2 linked regions of the Homo sapiens genome follow. The protein of the gene in region 2 purifies or fractionates together with the protein of the main gene of each other region. This does not show direct contact. Each region holds a gene or a part of one and is shown on either strand. Other genes may lie near its edges.

Region 1 (3,652 bases), on a different chromosome or scaffold from region 2:
TGAGTAGCTGGAATTACAGGCGTGCACCACCATGCCCAGCTAATTTTTTGTATTTTAGTAGAGACGGGATTTCACCATGTTGGTTAGCCAGGCTGGTCTTGAACTCCTGATCTGAAGTGATCCACCTGCCTTGGCCTCCCAAAGTGCTGAGATTATAGGCGTGAGCCACCACACCTGGCCTGTATATGTCAAGTTTTAAGAACACATATTAATCTCATTTAGTTGTACATAAACTGTGTCTTAGAAGGACACTGTAGAAAATCTTTCCGCAGCTCTAAAAATGGATTAAGGTAATGACTAAAAACATTTATTGGTTTATTTTTCATCTTTAAAATGTTTGCATCAAAGAAAAATAATATGGAATAAATAATATCTAGTGATTTCCCTGATGTCACAATATGCCATTGCTTTTTTACAGAGATAGACTCTCTGCTAGTGACATGCTCCAAGTCCGAAAAGTTATGGAACATGTTTATGAAAAAATTATCAACTTGGATAATGAGTCTCAAACCACTAGCTCTTCTAATAATGAAAAACCAGGAGAACAGGAAAAAGAAGAAGATATTGCTGTGTTGGCAGAGGAGAAAATTGAACTTTTGTGCCAGGACCAGGTAAGTGGACTTGAGGACTACAGCCCCAATTTTTCCAGTGCTGGTGCTCATAAAGAGTTACATGCCTTTGGGTGGGGGGCTTCTACTTTTAGAGGGGCTCTAAGGAGCCCTGGGCCTCTCCTACCTAAAGCCCACCCTAAAGCTCCTCTTTACTGCTGGGGAGATTTTCAGAGAAGGGATACATAGACAAATGTGGATGTGCTGGTAGCTTTTTTTTCTGACAAGAAAAAAGACACATGGTCTTCTTGATTTGCAAAAAGCATGTGCCATGTTTATGATTTAGAGTGAAGGTGTGCGGAGAAATGGCAGAACTGTTTTTTAAATCAAGATGCACTCAAAACGTATCCTCAGAGGAATGGCTGAAAGATGGCCTGGTGTTTCTGGCATAGTCACAAAAGATGTACATCTCACTAAGCTCAATTTCATTCCCGCATGCATGGAAGCCGTGACAGCAAGAATTGGATACCAGGCATAGGGGAGGAGTGAGCAAGCTGGATCACCTGATGAGAGTCCCTGAGTTAATGATAAGGTTTTAGATATTAGAGACTTTGAAATTTTTAAATTTAATTTTGGCTATTCAGGTTTTGGATCCAAATATGGACCTTCGAACAGTGAAACACTTCATATGGAAGAGCGGTGGAGACCTCACCCTCCATTACCGTCAGAAGTCCACGTGAAGGCTGGGCTAATGCTCCTGGATATTCATTTACGACCTTCCTCTATGGCCCCAAGAGTAGTCCTAGGAAGCCCACTGATCCCCAACGGGAGCAAGACTTCTAACGGCTGATTGGTATGGACCGAGATTATCTTTCAATTGAAGTGACTAATCGAGATGTAATATAGAAACCAGTCTCCATGTGTAGATTAAGCTGTCCCCAGGGAAGCAGAGTGCAAGAGCAGAAGAGCCCCAAGCAGACTATGTCTTTCAAGATGTACAGAAGACTGACAACAGGCCAGTGCAGACTTTGCTTCCTCCTTTTGTTTCAAAGGACCTTATCTACCCATTAACACTTGTTAGAGACACCTCAGTCGGGCCACAACTGTCTCTGTTTCAACTTTAAGCCCACACACTCTGTAGCTTTTCTAAAACAGTACATTCCATTCATGCAGTAGATATGAAGGCTTTTTCCAAGTTTGTCATATAAAGTAATCAAATTGTTTTCACCGTTTAAGACAGTTATTTTTAATGGGAATTTGCTGTTGCACAATTTGAGAACCAGCCCATTTCATAATAAAAGATTAATGTTGGGCTTGTTGTTAATATTGCATCTCAGATGTGTTCTTGTAGGAAGATCTGTTGAAATTCCAGGTGCTGGATCATAGCACTTGGACTGTTGGGCCGGAGTTTGTGCAGCCCATGCCTAGCGATGCTGCACCTCCCATGATGTCCTGGCTTTGTGGCAACCCCAGGGAGGTGCAGCAGTTTCACTCCTTCCTCCACTGTGTCCAGTTTTATTTACACAAAGCGAGCTGAGACCACAGGTTCTTGCTCTGGATGAGCAGCATGACACCATCAAAATTTAAGACCATGATGAAATTTCAGTTTCATTCAAATGTTACCTAAAATTTATGGTGTCAGAATAAAGGGAGATCATAGTGAGTTAATTTGATATTCATATCCTGGAAGTATACATATTTGTTTTTCCAAAGTTTTATATGCAGGTTTTTGTTGTACCTGTATCCAGATCTTCTTTTCACTGTTCTAACAATCTAACACTTTCATAGAATCATTTGGATCTTGTATAGAGTGTAACTTATTGGGGATAAACACTTCAACTTTTGGCAGAAAATACTTTGGATTCTCCCCAAGGTCATTTGTATTCAGAGTAAATCAGTGGTCCACCCCCATAAAACTGTAAGACAAGCCTCCTGTATGAAGCCAGAAGCACAAGTGCCTTCAGAGGGCAGTTGATTCCAGTCCAGTTGCCTCCCTAGCTTGTGTGTGGCCTGCCTCCACCATAGCAGGGACTAGGGAGGGAGGCAGGGAACGTTTTTTCTTTTCTACATCTTCACAGGTTCGGCTGGGGGCAGCTGATAGGCCTAAGGCCATACCTTACTATTTAAGATACTCTGATCGCACAACTGCAGAGACAGGGTTCCCTCACTGCTAGTCAGCTTCTTTTGGAAACTGGACAGGCCATTGCCACCTGCACTTTGAAGAAGTGAGCAAAGACGTGGCCACATTTCTAATAAGTTGAAATGGTCTTTCTCCCTTCCTCAGAGAGCAACCAGCTTCTTTTTTTTTAAAAGTCCTTTCTATCTGTTGGATACAACAGTGTGCTTTTGGTGCACATTTTTTAGCAATAGTTGTGAATTAATGGCAAAGAAAAAAAAAATTATTTACCAGCCCTCAGTTGTGTTTGCCCGAGGGGCCTTTGAGCAAAGAAATGGGTTTTGCTGGGTCATTTTGCCCTGTGTGCTAAGCCTTGGGTGGCTGCATTCCCCTCCTGTCATAGATCTGACCCCCAGCATGATTGTATTTCTTTCCCCTCCAGTCAAACCGTAATACAGTTTCCAGAAAATTCGACAGTCTGCAATGCCAAAAGGGTAAAAATCTGTATTTCACAGTTGTATAGAATAAAGGCTTTAGTTAAAATATTTCAAAGTGTAGTACACATTTATTTTCATTTGTTATTTTCTTTCATAGCAGATTACAGAGAAAGAAAGAAACCTCTGGTTTCATGTTCTCCCTGGAAATATTAGCATTGATACCCATTTTATCCTCCAACTTATGGGGGAAGGGAAAGTAAAAGTGAGGGAGGGAAGAGCCAGAACCTTTGGGTGAGGGCAACTTTGGGTCAGACTGCCAGGCTACAGAGTTAAGGGAAGCTGGCCCCAGAACAGTCCTGTGGCGATTCTGTTCTACTTCCTGCATTCCAGCAGACTTGACACTGGGCTCCCAGACGATCCAGGACACAATGCCTCACTGTTATGCACACGTATCAGCTGCTCTGGTAGGCTTGACAAGGGTTTGCTTTAAATGAAGGGTTTGCTAATTTGGGACCCTCCCTCCATATAGTTGGCCTGTGCCCCCCAGAGCA
Region 2 (3,652 bases):
AACATTTTGATTAAATTCAGGATTGGTTTTTGCCATGTTCACATTCACAGATAATATTATGGCTTCAGAGGCCGGGCGCGGTGGCTCATGCCTGTAATCCGAGCACTTTGGGAGGCTGAGGCGGGCGGATCACGAGGTCAGGAGATCGAGACCATCGTGGCTAACATGGTGAAACCCCGTCTCTACTAAAAATACAAAAACTTAGCTGGGCATGGTGGCAGGCACCTGTACCAGCTACTCGGGAGGCTGAGGCAAGAGAATGGCTTGAACCCGGGAGGTGGAGCTTGCAGTGAGCTGAACTCGCGCCACTGCACTCCAGCCTGGAGGACAGAGCGAGACTCCGTCTAAAAAAAAATATTATGGCTTCAGATTCTGTCACTGTGCAAACTTTGGAGGTTGTTGGGAGGCCCCTGAGTTGGGTCCTGGAGGAGGAGGTCTGCTCCTGGCACAGAAGCTGTGTGCTGGGTCGAGCCTGGCCTCCATCCCCTCACCCGTGCTGATAGTAGGCACTTGCGTTTGGAAAATCTGAGAAGTCATTCTCTCATCAGAACAGGAAACCATTGCTACCTGCCTCTCTCTTGTAATGATTTCTCATATTGTGGAAATTACTGAAGTAATTCCCTGAGGCCTAGGTTATGGGGCTCAGGGGAACTCCTCATTTCCCACGTAAATTTTGAAATATAATTAATCATTTTCTTAAGAGAAACAACCACATAATTACATTCATTAATTATTTGCCTTAATCGTAGTTGTTCATCAAAACAAGAAATGTTTTAGAATTGAAAGACGCACACACACGCACACATGTACACACACACACATGCTCATTATAAACCCTTTAGAGTGGGGGAAGCTGAGGCCAGGAGAAGGCGCAGCCTCTCAGGGCAGGGCTGTGATGGAAACTTCTAAATACACAGTCCCTTGGCCAGGCACATGCCTGTAATCCCAGCACATTGGGAGGCCAAAGAAGGCAGATCACTTAAGTCCAGGAGTTGGAGACCAGCCTGGGCAACATGGCAAGACCCTGTCTCTACAAAAAATACAAAAATTAGCAGGGCGTGATGGTGCATGCCTGCAGTCCCGGATACTTGGGCGGCTGAGGTGGGAGGATCACCTGAGCCCGGGGAGGTCGATGCTGCAGTGAGCCGTGATCGCACCACTGCACTCCAGCCTGGGCAACAGAGCAAGACCCTGTCTCTAAAACAAAACAAAAGATCCTGAAGGCCGATTTTCAAGCTGCATTTATTCCAGGTAAAGCTGACATTTTCCATGTTTTGCTGAGAACCTTCTCCCCTGGTAGCTCTGCCGAAGCCTGTAACAGTTCAAAATGCTACTTCTTCTATCAGGGAAGGAGAAGGGACTTATAGTGAAGGGGGAGCTTTTCTTTCTTTCCAAGGGACTTTCTTACCTTCTTGAAAAGTCAAAAGGTTTGTGCTCCCCAGGCACCAAGGACCCAGAGGCGGCCGAGTGAAAGGACGCCACCGCACCTGGGCATGAGATGCGTAAAGCGTTAGTACAGGAGAGTAAACCCTTACGCAGGCTGAAAAACGCAGCAAAACAGACAGTGCAGATAGTTCCTGTCTGCCAAAAGGAGGTGTTGTTTTTGATCCTGATTTCACTCTCATAAGCTGTGGAATTCTGTATCCTTATAAAGAAATGTAATTTGAAAAGTGAGGATAAGTAAAGCAGTCTGATCTGGAGAAAACCCATGTGTGTATGTGTGTGTGTGAGTGTGTGTGTATATGTGTGTATGGGTGTGTGTGTGAGTGTGTGTGTGTGGATGGGTGTGTGTGTGTTTGTGTGAGTGTGTGTGTATGTGTGTGTGTGGATGGGTGTGTGTGTTTGTGTGTGAGTGTGTGTATGTGTGTGTGGATGGGTGTGTGTGTGTGTTTGTGTGTGTGTATGTGTGTGGGGGGCGATGGGTGTCAGTAGAGCTTTCTTTTTGTGACAGTGGAACAAGGAAATTGCTTCAGAGTGAGCAGGGGCAGCTGCCGGATTTAGAAGATGTATTTCGCGTGGACTTTGGGAGTTTAAATTGCATTCACAATGCATGTTTTCACCCCTTTGAGCCTTAAGTTTTGCTTTCCATAGGTACAACAGTTCCCTTTCTCTTCTTTCCCTTCTCAGTCCCGGCTGAGACAACAGGACATCGGCCTGAAGACCCACCTGGACCAGCTGGACCTGCAGATTAGCAAGCTGCAGCTGGATGTGGGCACAGCCTCAGGGGAGGCCCTGGACAGCGACAGCAGGCCCAGCTCAGGTACCAGGGCGCCCTGACCTCCCGGACACAGGGGCAGGCACGCAGCACAGGCAGAGGTGAAGCCTATCCCGCCAGCCCCTCTTGGGCTGAAATTCCATTCCAGGTATCCTAGTGTCCGTGCAGGGAGATGGCCGCTTCGTCAGGCTGATCTGAAAGTTAGGAGGCAACACTGAAGCCTTTCTCAGGGCATATATATTAATTGGCTACCTCGCTCTTATTTTTTTAATTTGCAAAAATCACATTGTGGTCTAAGTGACGTTATTGCACTCAGGAGGCCTGTGGCTGAAGCACCTCCCCAGACTGGTCTCCTCAACTTGGCAGGCACCAGGGAAGAAAGAGAGAGACAGGGGCCAGAGGCCTGTCCTAAAAGGGCTGAAATCCAGAGGAAGAGGCCACCTCTTAGGCAGGCATCGACCACCCAGGACTAAAGGCACCACTTGCCAGGAAGAGGGAGGGCCAGGGCTGCAGAGTGCAGGTGGAGTGGGCTCTGACCAACCCACTGGCAGCTCCTGGGAAGAATCCTGAACATTCTCACCTGAGCCACTCTCTCCCAGGCCGGCCGTGTGGACGATGGCACACAGCCTCCGGTAGCCTCAGCTCAGGGGTTCCCCTGGGCCCACCTGTGCCGTGACAAGCTCAGGAGGAGAGGGGGCCCTGGGCTTTTCTGGATGGGGGTCACTGACCTGCCTTGTCTGCTCCGTCCAGGCTTTTACGAGATGAGCGACGGTGGATCCTGCTCCCTGTCCACGTCCTGTGCCTCCGTCTGCAGTGACCACATCTCTCCCTCGCTGGGCAGTTTGTTGCCTGTGGCCCAGGCCCACAAGGCCAGGCCCAGCATGGGGGACTGGAGGCCCCGGTCGGTTGATGAGACTACTGTGCCAGCGTGGAGACCCCAGGCTACCGAGGAGGGCGCCAGGCCCCCAGGGAGCGTGGAGGATGCAGGCCAGCCGTGGGGCACATTCTGGCCCAGGCCTGTGTCTACAGGTAAGAAACTGCCAGGGAAGGTGGGGGTCTCATCTCAGGCACAGGGGATGGCAGAGTGCAGTCCCCAGCTGCTGAGGGCAGAGCCGGGGACCCTACACGGAGCACGCTGTCAGGCTCTAAGGGACGCTGGAAGGCCTCCGTGGGCCACGTGGTGGTTTGGATGGAGGCAGGAACCAAATGCGGCTGTGCGCATCACCACCAGCTCTAATAACACACAGCACTTTTCCCTGTATTTAAAATGGACATCAGCAAGCTTAAAAAAATCCTTCAAAAACCCTGGATCCACTGGTGTTTGGAGTGAGAGTGGGGTTGAAAGCGCTGGTGGGGAGAGAACCGGGCTCACACCTGGATCCCACCCGCTGGCCCAGGAGGGGCTGTAGTTGTCTTCAGACTGTCTCCAAAGGCACA

What was found. Proteins that work in one complex are often made in the same cells at the same time.
Region 1: the proteins of DACT2 (region 2) and WDR48 purify together in Homo sapiens (affinity purification with mass spectrometry; one large-scale study listed by BioGRID and IntAct). This does not show direct contact.

The regions. Positions count from the first base shown.
Region 1 is NC_000003.12:39,093,456-39,097,107, forward strand, and holds the end of WDR48 (WD repeat-containing protein 48), read left to right. Parts: intron 1-418; coding exon 419-611; coding exon of another isoform or gene 612-797; exon of another isoform or gene 798-1,192; coding exon 1,193-1,288; 3' UTR 1,289-3,209; downstream 3,210-3,652. UniProt on the Homo sapiens protein: Regulator of deubiquitinating complexes, which acts as a strong activator of USP1, USP12 and USP46. Enhances the USP1-mediated deubiquitination of FANCD2; USP1 being almost inactive by itself.
Region 2 is NC_000006.12:168,309,760-168,313,411, reverse strand, and holds part of DACT2 (dapper homolog 2), read left to right. Parts: intron 1-1,141; exon of another isoform or gene 1,142-1,251; intron 1,252-2,127; coding exon 2,128-2,260; intron 2,261-2,965; coding exon 2,966-3,244; intron 3,245-3,652. UniProt on the Homo sapiens protein: Involved in regulation of intracellular signaling pathways during development. Negatively regulates the Nodal signaling pathway, possibly by promoting the lysosomal degradation of Nodal receptors, such as TGFBR1.